2 linked regions of the Homo sapiens genome follow. The protein of the gene in region 2 interacts with the protein of the main gene of each other region in a pairwise test. Each region holds a gene or a part of one and is shown on either strand. Other genes may lie near its edges.

Evidence for each region.
Region 1: the proteins of TNFAIP8L3 (region 2) and CBY1 interact in binary tests that used the Homo sapiens proteins (3 or more experiments, as listed by UniProt).

What each region holds. Positions count from the first base shown.
Region 1 is NC_000022.11:38,664,052-38,675,775, reverse strand, and holds the end of CBY1 (protein chibby homolog 1), read right to left. Parts: intron 10,231-11,724; exon of another isoform or gene 10,091-10,230; intron 7,760-10,090; 5' UTR 7,722-7,759; coding exon 7,644-7,721; intron 4,893-7,643; coding exon 4,787-4,892; intron 4,707-4,786; coding exon 4,588-4,706; intron 2,618-4,587; coding exon 2,540-2,617; 3' UTR 1,926-2,539; downstream 1-1,925. UniProt on the Homo sapiens protein: Inhibits the Wnt/Wingless pathway by binding to CTNNB1/beta-catenin and inhibiting beta-catenin-mediated transcriptional activation through competition with TCF/LEF transcription factors.
Region 2 is NC_000015.10:51,082,049-51,093,772, reverse strand, and holds part of TNFAIP8L3 (tumor necrosis factor alpha-induced protein 8-like protein 3), read left to right. Parts: intron 1-11,724. UniProt on the Homo sapiens protein: Acts as a lipid transfer protein. Preferentially captures and shuttles two lipid second messengers, i.e., phosphatidylinositol 4,5- bisphosphate and phosphatidylinositol 3,4,5-trisphosphate and increases their levels in the plasma membrane.

The sequences.
Region 1 (11,724 bases), on a different chromosome or scaffold from region 2:
CCACTGTGTCACTGTGCTGGGTTGGTTTTCTCATCTAAAACATGGTGATGGGGATAACAAACTTGAAAGAGTGTCATGCAAATGAGGTGTCCAGCATCGGGAGGTGTCCAGCATCAGGAATATTAATAAAGGGTCCCCAGTGATACCGGCCGAGGCATAAGCAAACTCCACTGCTCCTATTATCTGCACCTGAAGATTTACACCTTGCATATATGTGGATCCTTTTCCAATTTCTTCTGTATTAAACATTCTCTCCTGTATCAGAAAGTCAGGTTATGGGTTGGAGCTACAAATCTGCCCTTCGATCCATCCCCCCCATAGAGTGCTTTGCTGGCCGTAAGGATGGACTGCAGACAGCAGCTCCCTTTGAGGCCGCCCCCAGCTCCTCTCTTTCATAGCGGGCTGTGTGAATCAAGCTCCAGCACTTCTACTGTGTGATCCTAGATCAGTGTCTGAACCTCCCAGAGTTTCCTTCTCTGCAGATGGATGTGCCGATAGCCCCTGCTACACAGGGCTGAGCTGAAGGGGAAATGAGACAGTGAGAGCAAAGGGAGCCTGGTGCCAGGCATGTACCGGGCATTCAGAAGTGGCTAACCATGGTAGCCTGTCCCTAGTCTAAAGCCCTGGGCACCATGCCCCCACCTCCACCCCCTCAGTTCCTTCCCGCTTGACTTCAGGAGCTGGATTCCCTCCTCTTGCCAGAAAAGTCCAGCTCATACTGCCTACGGCACAAATTCTCACACCAACCATTAGGTTCCTGCCAGGTCCTGGCCAGTCCCAACACCATGAAGCAGGAGGGCAGGCGAATTTTGAGCAGAGAGACTGTTTCTGTTTGGCATCAGCCTCTGCCAATGCCCAGGAAAGCTGGAATGCTCTCCTACAAGAGTGACAGTTCCCCACACACTAAACATTCTTTTTTTTTTTTTTTTTTTTTTTGAGACAGAGTCTTGCTCTGTCGCCCAGGCTGGAGTGCAGTGGCCGCCTCCCGGGTTCAAGTGATTCTCCTGCCTCAGCCTCCCAAGTAGCTGGGACTACAGGCATGTGTTACCACACCCAGCTAATTTTCTTTTGTATTTTTAGTAGAGACGGGGTTTTGCCATGTTGGCCAGGCTGGTCTCAAACTCCTGACCTCAGACGATCCACCCACCTCAGCCTCCCAACGTGCTGGGATTACAGGCGTGAACCACCACGTCCGGCCAATTCTGTCTTTTGATGGAACAACAGAGGCTTAGACTCCAGGCTCCAGTTACTTTTTTTTTTTTTTTTTTTTTGAGACAGGGTCTTACTCTGTCACCCAGACTGGGGTGCAGTGGAGCAATCACAGCTCACTGCAGCCTCAACCTCCCTGGGCTCAAAGTGATCCTCCCATCTCAGCCTCCTGAGAGACTGGGACTACAGGTGTGCACCACCACGCCCAGCTAATTTTTTTTTTTTTTGTATTTTGTTTCGCTATTGCCAGGCTGGTCTTGAACTCCTGAGCTAAAGCAATCAGCCCGCCTCAGCCTCCCAAAGTGCTAGTGCTAGGATTACAGGTGTGTGCCACCACACCTGGCCAGGCTCCATTTAATTCTTTTTTTTTGGAGACGGAGTCTCGCTCTTGTCGCCCAGGCTGGAGTACAATGGTATGATCTCGGCTCACTGCAACTTCTGCCTCCTGGGTTCAAGCGATTCTCCTGTCTCAGCCTCTCAAGTAGCTGGGACTACAGGTGCCCACCACCACGCCTGGCTAATTTTTGTATTTTTAGTAGAGACGAGGTTTCACTCTATTGGCCAGGCTGGTCTCGAACTCCTGACCTCAGGTGATCTGCCCACCTCAGCCTCCCAAAGTGCTGGGATTACAGGTGTGAGCCACCATGCCTGGCCAGCTCCATTTACTTCTTGAGAAACTCATGGTTCTCTTTTTAGTCACTTTGGTCACAGAGAGATTATTTAACATCGTTTAATAAAAAAGTAGTAGTGCAAACAGGAAAGTAGCATAAAAATATAGTGTTGTTGTGGAAGGCTGGTGCTTGCTGCTGAGAAGCTGAAGCCAGAGGAGGCCAGGTGTGAGGAAGGAGGATTCTTTAAAGGCAAGAAGAGAGAGGCCTGCCTTTAAGAGCCAAGAGAGCCGCTCATCCATGACCCCAACACAGAGCTCTGTAGAACTGCTGTCACACGCCAAACACCAACATAAGGGGGTGAGAGAATGAACTCCAGCCGCTTCTCCCAACACAACCCAACAGAGCTATTCTGGGACATGTGTGTTTGCGAGCTTGTGTGTGGAGAGCACCAAAAAGCTCATCAGCAGCCCCAGGCCTCTGTGCGGTCTGGTTTTCAGACTGGCACCCGCAGGCAGTGCATCTGAAGCACCTTCTAGTTACTATCCCCATCTGGAATCTTGGTTTTCTCCATTCCATGTCACCTTCTATTGCCAACCCAAGGGTGCCAGTGCCTGTGGGTCTCATTATATGATACTCTCTTCCAGGACTGAATCCGCTAGTCTGGCCAAAAAAAAAGCACTCAGCCACATCCTACTCCCCAATAAATGTCTCTGGGGTCTTCATTTTCTCTTCCGGCTGATCCTCAGTTCATCCAGTTCCTTCTCCATTAAGTGGGATTCAGCAGTGGACTCTGAAAGCTGAAAGTGAAGCAGCGGCTGTTAGCAAGCAGCACATTTCTAGGAAATGTTTCGGGTTAGCAAGGCCGGCCCTACACACGGAGGAAAGGCCCCCTGCCACTTCTCTGATGCTGCTGGCTTCCTCGATGGGAAACCCTCTGTAACTGGGTAGAATGCAACCCCTGATGACCCAGGACCACAAGTACTTGAAGAATATTCACAGTCCACTCTGTCAGCACGCTGTCACCCACGAGGGCATGGCACTCCCTGCACGAAGGAGAGCAGGTCTCAGAGGACGTCAAAGGCAGATACTGGTGATTGTAAGGCTAAGGGATTAGAGCTGAAATTGATTCTAAGCTGTAGCTCCCATAATGGGGATGAGGGGAAAAAATGCTAGAAATAGAATGCCACTTTCCTCCTTAGGGTTTTTTTGTTTTTGTTTTTTGGTTTGTTTGTTTTCTGAGACACGGTCTCGCTCTGTCGGCCAGGCTGGGTGCTTTTCTTGTACTAACTCACTATGAGGTAGATACTACGATTATGCTCATTTTTAAAAAAAAACATCCAGGCCGGGCGTGGTGGCTCATGCCTGTAATCTCAGCACTTTGGGAGGCCAAGACAGGGAGATCACTTGAGGTCAGGCGTTGGAGACCAGCCTGGCCAACATGGTGAAACCCCATCTCTACTAAAAATGCAAAAATTAGCCAAGCGTGGTGGCGGGTGCTAATCAGGAGGCTGATGCAGGAGAATCACTTGAACCCGGGAGGCAGAGGTTGCAGTGGGGCAGTGGGTGGAGATCATGCCACTGTACTCCAGCCCAGGCTACAGAGCGAGACTCTGTCTAAAATAAATAAATAAATAAAAATAAAAATAAAAAAACATCCAGCCTAAAATGTCAGTCTTTTTCTTTTTTTTTTTTCCAAGATGGGGTCTCACTCTGTTGCCCAGGCTAGAGTACAGTGGCGCGATCTCAGCCCACTGCAACCTCCACCTCCCGGGTTCAAGCAATTCTCCTGCCTCAGCCTCCTGAGTAGCTGGGATTATAGGCGCATGCCATCACACCCAGCTAATTTTTGTATTTTTAGTAGAGACAAGGTTTCACCATGTTGGTCAGGCTGGTCTCGAACTCCTGACCTTGTGACCCGTCCACCTTGGCCTCCCAAAATGCTAAGATTACAGGCATGAGCCATCATGCCCAGCCTAGTCCTTTTTTAAAAAAAAAAAAAAGATGGCATCTTACTTTGCAGCCAAGGCTGCTCTCAAACTCCTGAGGTTAAGCCATCCTCCTGTCTTAGCCTCCCAAGTAGCTGGGACTACAGGGGTGCACCACCACAATTAGCTATTATGCCATTTATTGCTGAAGAAATTAAGTTACAGAGCAGTTAGTCAGTAGCAGAGCTGGGTGAGGAACCCAGGCCATTTTGCTCTGGAGTGTGTGCTCTTAACCACTACAGTGTATGCTCTCCTGCCTCTGAACCTTCACAGGCTCCTCTAGGCCCAGTGGGTTGCTGGATTTTTAACAGCCACAAGAAACCAACACTAATGCAGTGTGAGCCCCTCAGCTGGTCTGTACTGGGCACTGATTAATGCCTACTTGGTATGAGACACTTCCAAGCCATGAGCCGGCTCTACCCCTCTTCCTGGAATGCCTTCATCTAACCTCTATTCCTGCCATTATCCTTCCACATTCAGCTCAGATATCCCTTCCTCTGGGAAGCTCTCCCGACTTGACAGAAATAACTTCTCCCTCGTGTGCTGTGCAGATCCTGTGCAGACTCCAACTGGGTCCTTATGTAATTATGCTTACGGTCGGTCCACCTGCCTCTACACTGTGAGGGCAGGAACTGTGTCTTGTTCCTTGCGTGTGGCTTTGGATGCAAAGCAACGTACCTGGCCAAACTGGCATTGAGGAGATATCTGTTGGATTAAGTGACTCGAGGTGGAGCCTCCCCAAAAGGAGAAGCTAGGCCTCTCTTCCCCATCACCTGCCTCACCATGTCTAATAAGATGTCCACTTTCAGCCGCAAGAGATTGTTCTCTTCCTCCAACTGCTGGTTCCGCCTGCGAAGGCGCTGAACCTCCCTCCGGTCCACACCGCCACTAACCCCTGTCTCTGGAGGAAGGACAGAACCAGTTAAAGGGGGATTTCCTCCTACAATCTTGTTTGACAAAATGGCAGGAAGTGCAGCTCACCTGCTATCCACTGGCCATTTTCAAACTTCAGGCTTTGCCCTGCCAGGTTCATAGTCGGGGATCCGTATTCCAAGCCCAGCTCCACCTCCCGGGTTGATCGATCCAACTGTGGGCGAGATGCTATGTGACAACTTCAGCAGGCCCGGAACACGCCTTCATCCCAGCTCCTCTTCCGCCAACAATATGACCCCAACAACTCATTTCTCTAATCATTACTTGGCACCTTTAATGATTTTTTTAAAGCCATAAAATCAAATGATGTACAGGAAAAGTTTAATTGTGAGATAAAAAATATACTGTTTTATACATTAGATGTTTTCCAGAAAAGCTATATATACTGAAATTTATAAATTGAATTATTTTATACCTACTTGACACTTAATAGTTTAAGCAATCCTACTATAAACTGTTAATCAAGTGAAAAATTCTTTTTAAATGTAATAGTCCCCCAAGTTATCATTTGCTTAATATGGAGCTACATATGTTGTGGAAAAGACATAAAATTCTAACAATTAGGAGGAAGAGGAGTTGCTTCTTAACGTGCGACAGTACAATTTACATATTCTATTCTTTTCTTTTCTTTTTTTTTTTTTTTGAGACGGAGTTTCGCTCTTTCACCAAGGCTGGAGTACAGTGGTGCGATCTCAGTTCACTGCAGCCTCCGCCTCCCGGGTTCAAGTGATCCTCCCATCTCGGCCTCTGAATAGCTGGGACTACAGGCATGCACCACCATACCCGGCTAATTTTTGGGGTTTTTTTTGAGACGGAGTCTCACTCTTTCGCCTAGGCTGGAGTGCAGTGGCACAATCTTGGCTCACTGCAACCTCTGCCTCCCAGGTTCAAGCAACTCTTCTGCCTCAGCTTCCCGAGTAGCTGGGACTACAGGCGCACGCCACCACACCTGGCTAATTTTTGTATTTTTTAGTAGAGACAGGGTTTCACCATATTGGCCAGGCTGGTCTCGAACTCCTGACCTTGTGATCCGCCCACCTCAGCCTCCCAAAGTGCTGGGATTATAGACGTGAGCCACCGTGCCCGGCCTAATTTTTGTATTTTTTAAAGTAGAGTCAGAGTTTCGCCACATTGGCCAGGCTGGTCTCAAACTCCTGACCTCAAGTGATGCGCCCACCTCAGCCTCCTAAAGTGCTGGGATTACAGGCATGAGCCACTGCGCCTGGCCTAGATATTCATTTCTACAACTCACTGAGCACCCACCCCGATTCGGGACTCGGTACTGGGTATCCAGGGATGCGTATGACCAGCTCTGCCCTCAATAGCGGCTCAACACAGGGAGACCTTCAGGTAAGTGCTCAAATGTCCCTTTCTCAGTTAGGCCTTCCTGACCACCCTGTTGAAAATGAAAGCTCAGTCCCCAGTGCTCAGCCACACCCCATCCCAGGCCTATGCTTTGTTTTGCTGTCTGGCACATATCACCATCTGATATAAATTTGCTTATTTTCTGTAGCCTTCCGTTAAAGTATCTGCCCCATGAAAGCAGGGATTTGATGTTTTTCTCTCCCCTCCTTCATCCACTTCTGCATGCCCAGTGCTTAGGAGAGTGCCTGGCACATAGAAAGGTATCAATCAATAGCTCTTTAATTAATCTATTCTAGATTCTAGAATTAAACATTCTAGGCAGAAGGAGTAGCGTGCGCAGAGGAGGTTCACACGGGGCTTGGGCGGCTGCAGCACAGGGTGTGCAGAGGGCAAGGGCAGGAAGGAGAGCTGGAGTGAGGCCACCAAGGGTCATTTGTGCTGCTCCCAAGATCTGGGTGGTTATCCTGTAATAACGGGGAACTAATAAAATCCACCAGTGACCATATGGAGCGCTGTGGAGGCCTTACAAGTACCAAGGCTTACAAGTACCTGTCAGCATGTGGAAAACAATGTAGGGGAGGACCGACTTCAAGTCACGGTCAGAGACAGACGTCATGTAAGCACACTGCTGCTCTTACGCTGTGTGGGATTAGGACAGAGGATGTCCTAGAGGGACCGCCAGGTGTATCTGCATCTCTCACACATGGCAGAGAGGAAAGGGAGCCTCAGGCCTAGGGGCACCAGAAACTGAGATCCTAAGCCTCTGCCTGGCCTGCTCCACAGAATGCCCAGCTCTGGCCACAGTGGGGCTGCCCCCACCATGATTTTCACTGGGAACAGGAGACAACAGACTCTTAAGACCTGAAACCTGTAGTGAATGCTCAGCCCCCACAGCCTTGTTGTTCAACCCCACTCGCCTTCTGTGAAGACATGGCCAGTCTGCATAGCTAGCTCTGTAGGAAAAGGTCACAGAATAAAGTAGAAGTCAAATTGGATGATACTGGCTGGGCACAGTGGCTCACACCTGTAATCCTAGCACTTGGGGAGGCCAAGGCGGGTGGATCACCTGAGATCAGCAGTTCGAGACCAGCCTGGCCAACATGGTGAAACCCTGTCTCTACTAAAAGTACAAAAATTAGCCGGGCATGGTGGCGGGCAGTTGTAATCCCAGCTACTCAGGAGGCTGAGGAAGGAGAATCGCTTGAACCCGGGAGGTGGAGGTTGCAGTGAGTCAAGATCGCGCCACTGCACCCTAGCCTGTGGGACGGGAGTGAGACTCCATCTCAAAAAAGAAAAAAAAAATTTGGATATTTGGGGTCAAATATCATAATGAGATTGTCTTCTTAGGTTCTTGGATAAACAAGCTCTGACGATCATTCCCAAACAAGAGTTCAAAAATGTTTTCCGCAATAGCAATGATATGGACGGAAAGGATGCCCTCCTGCACTGATGCCTCTGGAGGACCACACTTTCCATTCAGAGACACGCTCAGCACTCAACTCATGCTGCACACCCGGCCGACCCCAGTACCGACACTCACAGAATGCAGGTTGGAGAGAGATGCCGACTTCCGAGGAGGTGTCTTCTTCGGACTGAACGTATTCCCAAAGAAAGGCATCTTTGGCCTGATGAAAGCAAAGCCAGTGCTCCCTTCTCCTAGGGTCAGAAAAAGTCAGGGGTACAAGCAGCTGGATCACTGACCTTATGCCATTGTCTTCAAATCTTGAAGACATACATTTTATCATGTGGCTACTAACGATCCTGGTGCTATGGTTTGAATGTCCCCACCAAAACTCATGTTGAAATTGAATTGCCATTGTTTAACAGTATAAGGGGTGACTGGGCCATGTGAGCTCTGCTCTCATGAATGGATTAATGCCATTGTCATGGAGTAGGTTAGTTTTCTCTGGCGTGGGCTCCTGGCAAAAGGATGAGTTCTGCTGCCATGCTGTCTGTCTCATGCACTTGCTCACCATGTGAGCCTTCTGCCTCACACAGGATGACCCTCACCAGATACTTGCACCATGCTCTTGGACTTCCCAGTCTCCAGAACTGTGAGCCAAATAAACTTCTTTTCTTTATAAATTACCCAGTCTGTGGTAATCTGTAACAGCAGCACAAAATGGATTAAGACGCCTGGTAATAGCTCCCATGTGCTGAACGCTCCCTTTGTGCTACGCGGTATGCTAAGATTTTTTGGGTGGCACACAGTGGCGCATGCCTGTAGTCCCAATTACTTGGGAAGCTGAGGCTGGGGGGTCGCTGGAGCCCAGGGAGGTTGAGGCTGCAGTGAGCTGTGGTCCACTGCTGCTCTCCAGTCTAGGCTACAGAATGAGAGACCATGTCTCAAAAAAAAAAAGTTAGCCTGGCATGGTGGCACACAACTACAGTCTCAGTGACTCAGGAGGCTGAGGTAGGCAGATCACTTGAGCCCAGGAGTTTAAGACCAGCCTGGCCAACATGGCAAAACTCTGTCTCTACAAAAAATACAAAAATTAGCCAGGTATGGTGGTGCGTGCCTGTAGTCTCAGCTATTCAGTAGGCTTAGGTGGGAGGATCACTTGAACCTATGAGTCTGAGCCTCCAGTGAGCTATGATCATGCCACTGCACTCCAGCCTGAGTCAAAGAGCATTACCCTGTCTCTAAAAAAAAAAAAATAAAGAAAGAAATGGCTGGGCACGGTGGCTCATATCTGTAATCCCAGCACTTTGGGAGGCCGAGGCGGGCAAATCAAGAGGTCAGGAGTTTGAGACCAGCCTGGCCAACGTGGTGAAACCCTGTCTCTACTAAAAATACAAAAAATTAGCTGGGCATAGTGGCGGGTGCCTGTAATCCCAGCTAGTTGGGAGGCTGAGGCAGGAAAATTGCTTGAACCCAGGAGGCAGAGGTTGCAGTGAGCCGAGATTGCGCCACTGCACTCCAGCCTGGGTGACAGAGCAAGACTCTGTCTCAAAAATAAATTAAAAAAATAAATAAATAAATGAGTAAAGCTATGCTTATATTTCCTTTCCAGATTGATAACAGTGCTCCTCACTTGTCACCAGTGTCACTTGTCAACAGTGCACCTCATATGTCACGTTACCTGTTCTGTTATGGAAGGTGACGTGAGGTGTCCTGAAAAGGGGGCAGGTCCACGACATGGCGGAGCTGACAACAACACCCCCCCAACCTGTACATTTGCTTTTAGCATAATGCAACCTATTGCAATTCACCTAGGCCTAGTTAAGTAGATTTCCTGATAACACCCTGGTTTTTGGGGAGAAAAGGAGGGGAGAAGCAAACTTTTTATTTAGGCTGGGAGCAGTGGCTCACACCTGTAATCCTAGCACTTTGGGAGGCCAGGGAGGGAGGATTACTTGAGCACAGGAGTTCAAGACCAGCCTGGGCAACTTAGCAGGGCCCGTCTCTACCAAAAAAAGGTTAAAAAAGAAAAAAAAATATATATATATATAACATTAATACAGAAAAGTCTACCACAAATCATAAGTGTAAGGTTTCATGAGTTTTTACTACACAAGTATAACCACCCTCCAGGGCCAGGCGTGGTGGTTTATACCTGAAATCCCAGCACTTTGGGAGGCCAAGGTGAGAGGATTGCTTGAGCCCAAGAGTTCAAGACCAGCCTGAGTGACACAGCGAGACCCCCATCTCTAAAAAAATTAAAATCAAGTATTTTTTAAATTTTATTTTTTATTTATGATTTTTTTTTTTGAGACAGAGCCCTGCTCTGTGCCTCAGCCTTGTAAATAGCTGGGATTACAGGTGTGTGCCACCATGCCCAGCTAATTTTTGTATTTTTAGTAGAGACAGGGTTTTACCATGTTGGCCAGGCTGGTCTCGAACTCCTGACCTCAAGTGACCTGCCCACCTTGGCCTCCCAAAGTGCTGGAATTACAGGTGTGAACCAACGCACTGGCTCAAAACATTTTTTTAAAACCACCCTCCAGATTGGGATACAGAGCATTTCAGCACTCCATAAGCCTCACCTGGCCACTGTACATGCACAGAATTGCACAGTGAGTCCTCGTTTGCATCTGGCTTCTCACACTCAACGTCATGTTTCTGACATTTATCCATGCAGCTGTGTGTAGTTATAGTTTGTTCATTTGCATTGCTGGATAATATTCTATTGTATAAACACAGCAAAATTTACTTGTCTACAGAAGATGGACATTTGAGCTGTTTGCAGTTTTGTTTTGTGTTTCTTGAGACAGGGTCTCGTTCTGGTCCCCCAGGTTGGAGTGCAGTGGTACCATCTCTGTTCACTGTAGCCTCAACCTCCCAGGCTCAGGTGATCCTCCCATCTCAGCCTCATGGGTAGCTGGGACTATAGGCACGCACCACCATGCTGGCTAATTTTCTGCATTTTTAATAGAGATGGGAGTTTCGTCATGTTGCCTAGTCTGGTCTTGAACTCTTGGGCTCACGTGATCTGCCTGCCTCAGCCTCCCAAAATGCTGGAATTACAGGTATGAACCACCACACCCGGCCTGTTTCCAGTTTTTGACCACCAAAAATAGTGCTGCTAGGCCAGGCATGGTGGCTTATGCCAGTAATCCTAGCACTTTGGGAGGCCAAGACAGGAGGATCACTTGATGCCAGGAGTTCAAGACCAGCCTAGGCAACATAATGAGACCTCATCTCTACAAAAAATTGAAAAATCAGCCAGGCGTGGTGGTGTACCCTTGTAGTCCTAGCTACTCAGGAGGCTGAGGTGGAAGGATTGCTTCAGCCCAGGAGTTTGAGGCTGCAGTGAGCTGTGATCACCACTGCACACTTCAGTCTGGGCAACAGAGCAAGACCCTGTCTCAAGAAAAAAAAAAACTACTGCTAAGAACATAAGACTTGAGCATGTATATCTACATGCATATGTACACTTTTCTGGTTCCATACTTAGGGGTATAACTATAGAGTCACAGAGCATTCATATATTTAGCTTTAACAGATTCTGCCAAATGGTTTTCCAAAGTCATTGTACCAATTTAGACTCCTATCTGTAGTTTGCAAGAGATCCTTGTCAATATCTGGCACTTTCTTTTTCATCTTTTCCATTCTGGCAGGTATGTAATGGTGTTGCATTGTTTAATTTGCTTTTCCCAAATAACTAATTAAGTTGAGCATCATTTAACATACTCCTTGGACATATATGGATTTTTTTGTGGCATGCTTATTCATGTATTTTGCTTTTTTTTTTTTTTTTTGAGATGGAGTCTCCCTCTGTCATCGGGCTGGAGTGCAGTGGCACAATCTCAGCTCACTGCAACCTCTGCCTCCCAGGTTCAAGTGATTCTCCTGCCTCAGCCTCCCGAGTAACTGGGATTACAGGAACACACCACCATGCCCAGCTAATTTTTGTATTTTTAATAGAGACAGGGTTTCGCTATGCTGGCCAGGCTTGTCTCGAACTCCTGACCTCAAGCAATCTGCCCGCCACAGCCTCCCAAAGTGCTAGGATTATAGGCATGAGCCACCGCGCCCAGCCCTCTTTTGCCATTTTTTAAAATTGAGCTGTCTATCATGTTCATTTTGTAAGGGTTTGTAAGGGTATTTATATACGCTGGATACAAGTTTCACTACTGTATATATGTACAGTACTGAAAATATCTTCTCCCACTTTTTT
Region 2 (11,724 bases):
ACTTGCCGCCGGTCTCTGCCCACCTCCACCGGTCCGCTCCGCCCCCCACCCACGGGTCTACGCACCTAGGACCCGCTCGCCCTCCTCACGTGCCCACAGCTCCCGGCGCTTGTGCAGCTCTGAAGGTTAGCTGTGGGCCTGCAGACCCGTGACCTGCGGGCTGGGACCCTCCTGTACAGACCGCGGCCCTGGCTAAGCCCCCACTCTTCCCAGTGTCACACTAGAGTACTGACGGTGGGGACCAAGTAACAGAAGGCACCATCAGTCCAGCCGTGGGTGTAGGAAAGAGAGGTTCGGGAACCAAGCAGGACAGTGCCCTGCGTATATTATTAATACCCTTTCATCCTCACAGCCCCTGGCCAGGCAGTTATTTTCATTTTACAGAGATTCCCATAGAGTAAAGGGCTTGCCCACTTCTCACAGCCAGGGAGTAGCCAGGACCCAGTGACGCCCTTCACCCTGCATCAGACCCCACAGAGGGTGGCTGTGGCCCGCACCTTTGGGTGGGTGGGAAGGGCCAAGGCTGGCGGAAAGGAAATGCCAAGATGCGTGTATTTAAGGATTCCTGTGTGTGTGCAAGTGCCACCTGCTTTGCCTAGGTATGATATAATTCATAAACATGAGCCCTTTGCATGCCTGTATGTTTCTGTGACTATAAAGTGCTGAGATTTTGCTTCACAGGTGACTTGTGGATCTCCTCTCATCATTTAAAAGTTCCAGTAGATGTTTTGTGTGTATCTATTTCGAGAGCGCAAGCGGGAAGGGGACATTGACCCTGACGCTTAACTCTCTCAAAATCCTAAGAACAACATTCTCTGTGCTCCCCTGCCCAACCCTCTATCTCTTCTTCTGGTTGAAGTTAAGGGGTTGAGGGAGAAGCGGGAGGAGGATAAGGAGGCTTAGAGAAAGAGGAAGGAAGAGAAGCCGGGGGCAGGGAGGAGAATCTTCAGAATCCCTGGTACTTGGGTGAAAGGGAAGGAAAAGAATTCTGCTGCACCCTGTTGTTTTCTCTCTCCAGCCTGACCCAGTGTTTAATATCCCTGTTGTATTCACGGTCAGTTTGTGTCAGAAGGCCTCTGCGTAGCTGACAGCAAACATCACTAAGGTCAGATGGGCCCCATGAAGAACAGGGCAGACAGCTCTCGTGAGCTGTCACTATTTGTTTGCACCTTACTGTTTTCTGCAGTTGTTTCTTCTTTCTGCGTGTGCTTGAATCTCACACGTTGAACATGTATTTTAATGTCACAAGCCATTCTGCTAAATGGCAGTCAGTCTCACGCATTATATTCCATCTTAAAGTATTCTCCTGTATGACAGTGCTTCAAAGCTGGATGTTAATTCACCACCTTGCTAGGGCTGCATCCTGTCAAATGGAAACCGTTGTTGCAGATTCAGATACAGGTTAGATAACAGGTGTGTTCTCCTTAGAGATTGACCTTTGTCTCTACAAGAAACTTGACATTCATCCATGGACCTGTATCTATGAAAGCTGAATGGGTGTAACTGAGAAGTACAGCAGAGTGAGTGGGACCTCTTGGAGTACTTATATGTGTGTGTGTACCTGCCTCACAGGGAGTTGAGACATAAGGGCTGCTTCCTCATCCATGCCTTTCCATTTCCTGAATTTATGAAAAAGCCCTGCCATAAGATGGACATTGTAAGTGTAAAAGGCTGGACTCTGGAATTGAACAGACCTGAGTTTCAGTCTGCACCTCATGGGCAAGTTATTTAACATCTCCAACCTCAGTTTCCCACTCTGTAAAATGAGGATAACAGTAGTACCACAGGGGTTTATGAAGATTCAGTATAATAACACGAGAGGTGTTCCTGGTAATCATTTAGTAAATGGTAGCTGTTATTTTGATTATTACCTGATTGGATTATTTGTTGTAAGAATACTGCTAAATAATGAACTCTAGTGTTTTAAAATATAAATGCATGTTTAAAACAATTAATGTTGCTGCTGTTATTATCACATTAATATAACTGCCTAAAGAGATTTGTTTTGAATTTTCTCCTTTTCAGTCTCTTGTTCATTATCTCTGGTGTGTGCACGTGTGTGTGTGTGTGTGTGTGTGTGTGTGTGTGTGTGTGTGCTTGAGGAGGTCTTTTTAGTTTACCTCTTCTCATCTTCATCCATCTTCCAGCACAAGGCATGAAGATGGGGATATTCCAACCTGCTGCTTTCACCAGCTTCTCCTATGCCTCTAGGGAAAGTTATAAAAAAAACAGAACCCCTTACTCAGTCCACCTGCTAATGTGGAGATGAAAGCGTTTCTTCTTTCATGGTGCTTCAAGTGGAAGAAGAGGAGGCAATCCCCTGCCCTCCACCTCCCACATTCCATTGGTAAACCTTTTCCCTTCAAGGTGGCAGGAACCATCATGGTCACCTTTCTAGTCACCTATTGGCAGAGGACAAAGACAACTCACTTTTTACTGTACTACTTTCAAGAGACTCTTCCAAAGTTCCCCCCACTTTGTGCGTGCAGAGCAGATCTCTCATAGAGCAACACGCTGCAGTGGAGGGTGGGGCGGAGGATGAAATTTGTCTCCATCTGCATTTTCTGTTTTTCAGGAAGCACAGAATGATGCTTCTATGTCATTGTGCTGCCTGCATTCTCCTCTGCCTTTCTGTCATTTTATGGATCTTTCTATGATTAGGGAAGAGGCAAGGTTTATGGAACACTGGATTCTTTCCAGAGACCCAACTTGGCACTCTTTCCTTTGGCAAACCCACCATCCATCTCTCAGAAATCCTAGAGCTTGGTGTATTCACTTGGGAGTGGTTAAGTCTTTCCTAAGAAGCAACAGGAGAGTAAACAGCGACGTCAGTTTTTTCCCCTTTCTGGCTTGGAAGATCAAGACAGCCTACCCAGCTGAGGGCAGATAAGCTCCTTCCTCCCACAAATAGATGGTCCAGGGCAATCAAGCTGATGGTGCCCTTGTGCCTGGGTCGGTGCTGCAGAAAAGCATTTCCATGTGATGGAGTCAGAATGTGGTAGGGGAACCACAAGAGAAAAACAGGACTGGGAAAACACCAGGCCCCTAACTCTGCCCTTCCTCTCCCTCTCCTCCCCTACATGCTTAGCTTGGTCCACATGAACCAACTGAAGGAATGGATAGGATTCAATAGGATCCTGTTGAGGAGGTGGCAGGTGAAAGGGAAAGACATTCCAGAAGTCATACAGCTTGAGAAAAGACACAAATAAACAGGAAGGCAGCTAGAGTAGAGGGCGCATACTGGGGAGTTCTGGGAGATAAAGCTAAGCGAGTACAGGGAGTAAGTTGGTCTTGGCAGGGCTTCTGGAGCCCCCATGATTCTTGAGCAGAGATGTGACCAAATGAAAGCTGAGTTTTCAGAATGTACATCTGGCAGAGATGGAGAGATGCAAGATTTGCCTGGACTTGGCACCTCAACTCCCAGGGTATGGCCACAACATCAGAGAAGGTAGTGGCACTAAGGCAAGATGGAAGAGGGAGGGTGCAAATGGCATTTCAGAGAAATCAACAACAGAAGTTGGTGACAGATTGTACAAAAGCAGTGAAAGGAGAGGGAGAGTTGAAGGAGACAGTGACATGTTGTGTTGGGTAACGTTCTCTGGAGGCAGGGAAATGCAGGAGACAGGCTCCCCCACCCCACAGACGCTGCCTCTTCCTTCAGGCACTTAGCAGTGGTGTTTGGGGTAAAGATTCTTTTCCCCTTTGACATTAAGTTTCTCAGGTGCATTAGTTTTGAGGCACTGTGAGGTTTGAGGGTTTGTTGATTCTCATTGCTAGGTTCCTTGCAGAGGCTGTTTAGTAATCTTTGTCTACTGACAGATTGAAGATAAATGGGCTGGCCTGCTAAGGGCAAGGACAGCCTGGGAATGATGTGCCATTTGGTTATTAGTCATATTCCCATTTCTTGTTCCTGTTTGTTGAAATTTGCACGGATCTCTGCCTCATCCACAGAGTAAGCTGTAGCTGCTTTCGGAGTCAGGACCTTGTCTTGTGCTTCTTCATGTTCCTGGGATTTTATGGACATAGTAAGTGAATGAGCATCTTGAGGAACCTCCTAAGAACTTTGCCCTAAAAGGCCAGACCAGCAGCCAGAAACCTGTCCTATAAAGTAGACAGGATGCCAAGGCTTTCCCTCAGTGTTTTGTTTTGTTTTAGTGTTTTAAGATTTCTGTACTGTCTGGGACTCTGTGTTAGGAATTATGGGAAATGCAAAGAGAGATAAGGACACAGTTCACCCTGTCCTCCAGGACTTGACATTGGATGAGGAGACAGGGTATGTCTACTGATGACCACAGCCTAAGCCAGTGCATGAAGACTCCTCACCTCCCTTACCTGGCATCATATCCACAACCACATATCCCTTGACACCAGCCCTTCCTATTGCATACTTTATGGTTATTCCTGTGCTGGACTGTTAGTTAGCTTCCTAAGGACAAGGACTGGGTCTTTTTCATCTGTATCAGCCCATGCCACCCATGTCCCCTAAGCATAGTGGCAGGTTGCTGGCTGAATAGGTAGGTGGGTGGGTGGGCGGATGGATGGATGGATGAATGGATGGTGTTGTGGGTTGGTTTGCTAGGAAGCAGACTGTGAGATGGAGGTCAGCAGCATGTACAAGGTTTATTTGGGACTTCTCTTGGAATTAATAACTGTAGAAGGCAAGGGAAAAAAGGGGGAAGGGAAGGGAGCAGGACTGGGCAGAGAAGCTGAGCTACCATGTAGACCCAACAGCCTCAGTTGAGCCCATGGGAACTCTGGAGCTAGAATGGCTCATCAGAACTATTCTGAGTTGGGGTGAGAGGCCAGGTCTTTATACCTTTACACCCCCAAAATAAGCAGTCATTAAAGGCAAGTCATTTCAAGGAACTAGGAATAACCTTGAGTGAGGCTGTTCCCTCCAGCTGAGGGCTTCTGCAGGTAGCACTACCAGCCACTTGTGGAGGAAGTCCTTTGTTCCTGAAGGGGAGTCCGTGCAGCACATGGCAGTGGTCACCACAGGTGGCCTCCACAGATCTTTAGGACTGTTTACTAGGGATGGCAGGCCTGTCTACCAGCAGAATTCAGGGGATAGTTGTTGAACTGCAAACTTTGTCTAGACCTCTTTGGGGCAGTTTCGGTTGCCAGATTAAAGTGGCCATTCTAGACCTCATAGCTCTGAATCCAACTGTTCAATCCACACAGTCCAGTAGATGCTGGCTGATCAGCTGTTTTGTGTTCAGAGTGGTGCCAGGTGCTGTGATAGTATACAGAAATGCATTTAGATGTGCTCCTGCCTTCCAGAGGTTTGTAGCCATATTGGGGAGAGAAAACCCACCTCAAACTGGATCTGTAAAACTGGGCAGCACCAGCAGTAATTGGTGCAGGATTTGGAGCATAGGGCAATGTGATTTGGAATTCTAGTGGGAAGGCTTCTTAAGGTGAAGACTGAGTGTATATGAATATATACATGGAAAGCTCTATTTCCTATGTTATTTTTCTCATAAAAAATACAGCACTTGCCTTTTTATTTGTCAACAAAGCTAAATTTTAGTCACACTTTCTATTAGCATAGTTCCCTAACTGGTTCATTTCCCTTCAGCATTACCCTTGGCTCCCATTCGAATTCACATGTAAATCTCTATAAAGACACTACATAAATAACTTTGTTTTGTTTTTCAGTCACTTGGCTTCCAACTCTTTATGTAAAATGCCTATGTAGGTGGATGTTTGGGCTGTATTCTATACAAATATAGAAATAAAAGGATAGAGAAGAAGAATTTAAAAGACAAGTTTCCTCTAAAAATCCAATCCAAAAAATCATATCAGGAGAGCAAATATCCTCCCCCTTCCCATATATATATATATATATATATAAAGGTATGCTAGAAAAATTTTATTTTATTACATATCAGAAATGTTCTTTTTAGGCAATGGCATGGGACAAATTCTGAGTCTGCTTTAGAACAATCTTCACGTTCATATTGGGTTTCCTAAGCATCATTGCCTGGGAATAAATTTGAGCCTGTTCATGGAAAATCTACCAGTGTGCATACTGTAAAAATGGAAGGCTTGGCAGCACAGAAAGTGCTAGACACACCCTAATAGAAACCAGTATTTTGTAACTCAGTTCTCTGGGAAAAAAAGGAGACACTTGGTGGTGTCCAATATTGCTTTAAACTATTGAAAAACCACAGGGGCAGCCACTGGCTTCTAGGTTGTGTTTCAGAAGTAAAATGTGCTTTCTGGGAAAATATTCTGGCCATGAAAGGAAGCATGTTAGCCATACGTAGCTTCATGGAGACTCCTGGTTTATATTTTTGTAGTAGAAGCATCCAGTTTCACATGAGGGAGGAGATTCTGGAAGGAGCTGTTGCTAGTGAGCACACACATCCCACACTCCTGATTTGGAGCCTGTGGGTTATGCTGGGAAGGTGGGCAAATACGAAGTCAAATACGGGAGGTAGGTGAGGGGAGCCATCTGCCCAGCAGGCCTCTGTGGCAGCTCTTTCCTGCCACAATTGAGTCATGGCTCCTTGGTTTCCTTTGGATAAGACTGAGAAAGTGAGGGTGGGAAGGCTGGGATTGGGGGTTACAGGATAAGAGAAACCAGGGTTTAAGAAATTGTGAGCTGGGTGCAGTGGCTCACGCCTGTAATCCCAGCACTTTGGGAGGCTGAGGCGGGTGGATCACCTGAGGTCAGAAGTTCAAGACCAGCCATCTCTACTAAAAATACAAAAATTAGCTGGGCATGGTGGTGCATGCCTGCAATCCTAGCTACTCGGGAGGCTGAGGCAGGAGAATTGCTTGAACTCGGGAGGCAGAAGTTGCAGTGAGCCTAGATCGTGCCACTGCACTCCAGCCTGGGCAAAAGAGAGACTCTGACTCCAAAAAAAAAAAAAGAAGTTGTAGCAAAACAAGATGAGAAATAAGATGGCATGATCCTTGCCAGCCCAAGGTCAGCCCCAGAGGGCTGTTACTGAACATAAAAGTATAATGATGTTTTACTTTTTATTTATCCTATATTAATTAAGCACTTACAATGTATTCGGGACTGGGTTAATTGTTTATATGGTAGTTGATCCTTATACCAGCCTTCTGGGCTATGTACTATAAATAGCCCCAATTTATAGAACAGAAAACCAAACACAGAGAGGTTAAGTAACCTGCTCAGGGTTGCACAGCTTGTCAGTAGAAATGAAGCCAGTCTAACTCCAGAGACTCTTCTCTTGCACCAGGTAGACTACGTAATTAGATTCACGGATGCCACCAGGCTGTCTTGCATCCCCCACACAGCTCCCACGGTTCCCAGAACCCTAACCCTTAGGCTCCCTCTGTTAGGTGAGGGCATTCTGCCTCCACAAAGGCCTGCTTTAAGCTGCAGACATTCCCTGCATTAGCCTATAAACAAAATGGGGAAGGACTGGCTGACTCCAGATCCAGATCAGGGGATGGTAAAGGGCGATCTGTGAGGGAAGATGGGAGAGTTAGCACAAAGCCACTGCTAGGCAGAAGGCCCTAGAAGGACGCTCCAGCCGTGGGCTTCTTCTGGATCACATGGGCCTGGTGAGAGAGGAGAGAAGAAGGTTTGAAAAGCAGAGTTAAGAGAGATACCAAAGTCAAATACACCCTTTTTCAAAGTGTGCTTAAGCTGGGTCCTAAGCCCTTTTTTTCACCCCAGCATTTAGAATCATTTCAGATATACAATCCCCAGGACATGGTGACCAGCAGGACTTGAGGAGAGAAAATTCAAAAGGTGAGAGTGCAACATAGTGAAAAGAACTTGACATTCAGAGCTGGATGACTCAGGTCTGTGTTTCAAGCATTGTCGCTTAGTTATTGCTTGTCAGTAACATTATTTTCTGACCAAAAAAGTGCAAGCTCATGGTAGAATATGTGAAAACAGTACAAGGAAGAAAATTAGATTGAGCCCTAAGAGAAGACTGCACTATTCCAAGAAGGTGGTCCAAAAGCAATTTGAAAAAGATGTGAGAGCTTTATTTAGGGAGAGAGGAGGGTTTAAAAAGAATGAGAGTCCTGTTTCTGAAATGTTGACCTGGGATGCTAAAAACATTTTGTTCCACTGTCAGGCAGTGTTAGAACCAGAACTGGAGGCCAGATCCCATGGCTTCTTTGTGTTTACCCCAAAACATGTAATTAAAAAAAAAAAAAAAAGAATCGGAGCTATTCCAGGTATTGAGATATCAAAAGGACTTTTGCTGTTTTTCCTTCTGACACCTTCTACTGTGTTCTTGCCACTCCCTCCCATCACCTGCATTTCCTTTCTTAGGTTTCTCCATCCTGGGCCCATTTGCCACAGGTCAGACCAGCACAGGCCCACGCTAGCACGTTGCCCAGGGGCCTCCTTCCCTTGGGTCAGGCCCACTTCTCTTTCTTAGTCAGAAGAGCCCTCCACAAAGCCCTCAGAAGATTAATGCATTTTTTTTTAATACTTGAGAGGCATTTGGTAGGTTTTACAGATGCCCAGTGACAATTGCAAAGGTTAATTTACTTTGAGCTTAAATAGCTACCAGCTTCAAGAAAAGTTTATTGGCCACTAGTTCTCCAATTACATTTTATCTTTCTTTAGATTGATTTTTTTTTTTATTGTAAAGAAACTGGCATGTTTGTTCATCCATGTTTGGTCTCTCTACCTTTAGGATTTAACTTCATAATTCGCTGAGTCAAACAACGCAGGCAGAGCTAAATTTATACAGGGTCAACTTTTAGAGAGCCCACAGCAGTATCTGGTAGGTATCAAACCTGAATTTTTGTGACTCTATTTTTCTTTGTTTCTAACTTCTCTGTGTATAATCCTGGTTTCTCTGTACCTTCTCAGTTGCTCCTCCTGCATCCCTCATTAATACCTTTTTCCTAACTATGTCCCTTAAGATGGAGCTCTTGCCTTGCTTTTTTCTGACAAAATACTTTATTAGAAAAGACCATCCATTCTTATAACAATAGCTGTAAGCTTTTGGGAAGCTAAAGGCTCCCAAAGTTGTACTCTAGCCCAGTCTTCTTTCCTGAGCAAGAATCCTGTCTTCTAAAGGCCCCGGACCCCTCCTCCTCACTGTTTAGGAGACACCCCAACACACCCACTCCAGGCCATCACCTTTCCCTCACTTTTTCCCAACTCTGCTGGTGGCCTTGACAGCCACCGAGTCACTCGAAGTTAAAAGACTGTGAAATCATAGAACAGTGAAAACTCCTCCACACATGTTCTCATAGCAAAACCATGACATGGATAAAGCAGGTATTATCATTCCTAGTTTACAGATGAAGAAACAGATGCAGAGAGATTAAATTATCCCAATCACAAAGTAAATGGCAGATTTTTGCTATTTAAAACTGGCCAGGGCGGGGGCAGAAACAAACCTAAATAAACAACTTGAATATTCAGTCAAATATTTATGGAATGATTAAATACATAATGACATTTCCACACAGTGGGATATTATTCAGATGTTAAGGAAAGTTAATTTGAAGAACATTTGATGATATAGGGAAATGTTCACATTATAACATTGTCAAAGAAGGCTCAATAATCTGTGATCCCTGTTTTTCTGTATGTACGTATATACATAAATGTGCATACACACACACACACACACACCCCTATACATCTACCCCTTTGTATATGGAGAGGGGGAGAAATCTCCCCTCACAGTCACACACGTAAACACTTGAGATTTTTTGTTAATGCTCGAGCAAAATAAACCACTCTGTGATGAGTGCATAGGTAATTTTAATTGTCTTCTTTGTAGTCTTCCAGATTTGTCTTCAGTGAGTACATGCAGCTTTCAGCTGGTAATTTGCTTTTATAAACAATAGCCAAGTGAGCTGCAGTGCCTGTTCCCCAGCTCATCCTCCTGCAGGCTTGTCCCAGGCCCCTCCGTCCTCTCCCTTGAAATTTGCTCTTCCATCAATTCCCTGTGTTCCAGTCCTCTGTGGCCCCCCTCACTGGCTCCGCCCAGCCCCCTGCCTGGGGTGATCCAGCCTTCTGCCCTGTTCACCCCCTGCCCTAGCCTCAGCCCTTGCTTTCTCTGGTGCCTCCACCCCCATCACCACCTCCTGCTCTGAGCCCACCTGGCCTAGCCTTTGTGGGCCTCCATGCCATGAACAGGGTCAGAGCTTGTAAATATGAGGCCTACAGACTGGCCAAGGACACTGCAGCATCCCAGTCTAAACGCACCCGTGGGTGAGCCTGTGGACTCAGCCATCTTGGCTTTCTTGAAACTCAGCGTCGCTGCTGCTCGCTGGCTGGCAGGGGGTCCACTTGGCAGCTCTGACCCACATGCCCTCTGCAACCCTTCCTCTGTCCTTGACCTCTATTCCAGATATGAGTGACATTCACTTCCCACATTTTCATTTACCTATACTAATTTTGTGTTTTTATTACTTTTTAAATTAGAGGGGGATACAACGACATTTAAAAGCCTGTTGTAACGGGATTGTTAGCTTTTAGGAGGTATTGGTCTGCCACCACCACCGTCAGTCCATCGTTCCAAAAAAATTTATTATTGAGGAGTGGTGTGATATTAAATATAATGTGAATCTATTTCTGAAGGAATTAGACTGAAATTTAATTGAAGATTCCTTGTGCATCTTGAAGCTAAAAATAAGAGATCATACGGTGGCCCCAGAATCCCTTACTCCCCTCTAGCCTCCCAAGCAGAGGTAGCCCAGTCAGGAGGCTTCTAGAAAAGGAAGTGCCCACCATTTAGATTCACATTTAACAGAATTTTTAACCCAGTTTTAAATTAGCCCCAATCACCCTTAATAGTTGGTATTCCCCATCAGCCAGGATTTTGTCTATCTTTATTTACTTTCTTGGTTTATATTATGAAAAATGATTTATCCTTACTCCTTTTCAGGTATAAAATTATACAGTCAGGTGCTGCATAATGATATTTTGGACGTGATAGTAGTCCCTAGGCTTACAATGGAGCTAAAAATTCCTTGCACCTGATGATGTTTTGACGATCTTGACCCTTTGTCGGCAGAGACTAATGTATGTGTTTTTCTTAGTTTTTAACAAAAAAGTTTAAAAAGTAAAAGAAAAAAATTAATAGAAAAAAGCTTATAGAATAAAGATATAAAGGAAAAAATAATTTTTGTACAGCTATACAATGTGCTTGTGTTTTAAGCTAAGTGTTACAACAAAAGTCAAAAAGTTTTTAAAAATTTAAAGTTTATAAAGTAAAAAAGTTTCAGTAAGCTAAGGGTAATTTATCACTGAAGAAAGAAAAATGTTTTTTATAAGATTAATGTAGCCTAGGTGTACAGTGTTGATAAAGTCTATAGTAGTGTACAGTTATGTCCTGGGCCTCCACATTCACTCTCCACTCATTCACTGACTCACCTGGAACAACTTCCAGTCCTGCAAGCTCTATTCATGCTAAGTGCCTTAGAGAAGTAGACCATTTTTTATCTTTTATACTGCATTTTTACTGTACCTTATACATGTTTAGATATACAAATACCATTGTGTTACAGGTGCCTACAGTATTCAGTACAGTAACATACGGTACAAGTTTGTAGCCTAGGAGCAAAATGCTGTACCATATAGCCTAGGTGGTAGTGGGCTTGACCATCTAGGTTTGTATAAGTACACCGTATGATGTTCACCCAATGGCAAAATCCCCTAATGCATTTCTGAGAACGTAGCCCCATCAAGTCACTCATGACTCTATGTTGACTATGCTTTTTCACGCTTCCAGAAAAGTCCCCTCATTAAAAAAAAAAAAA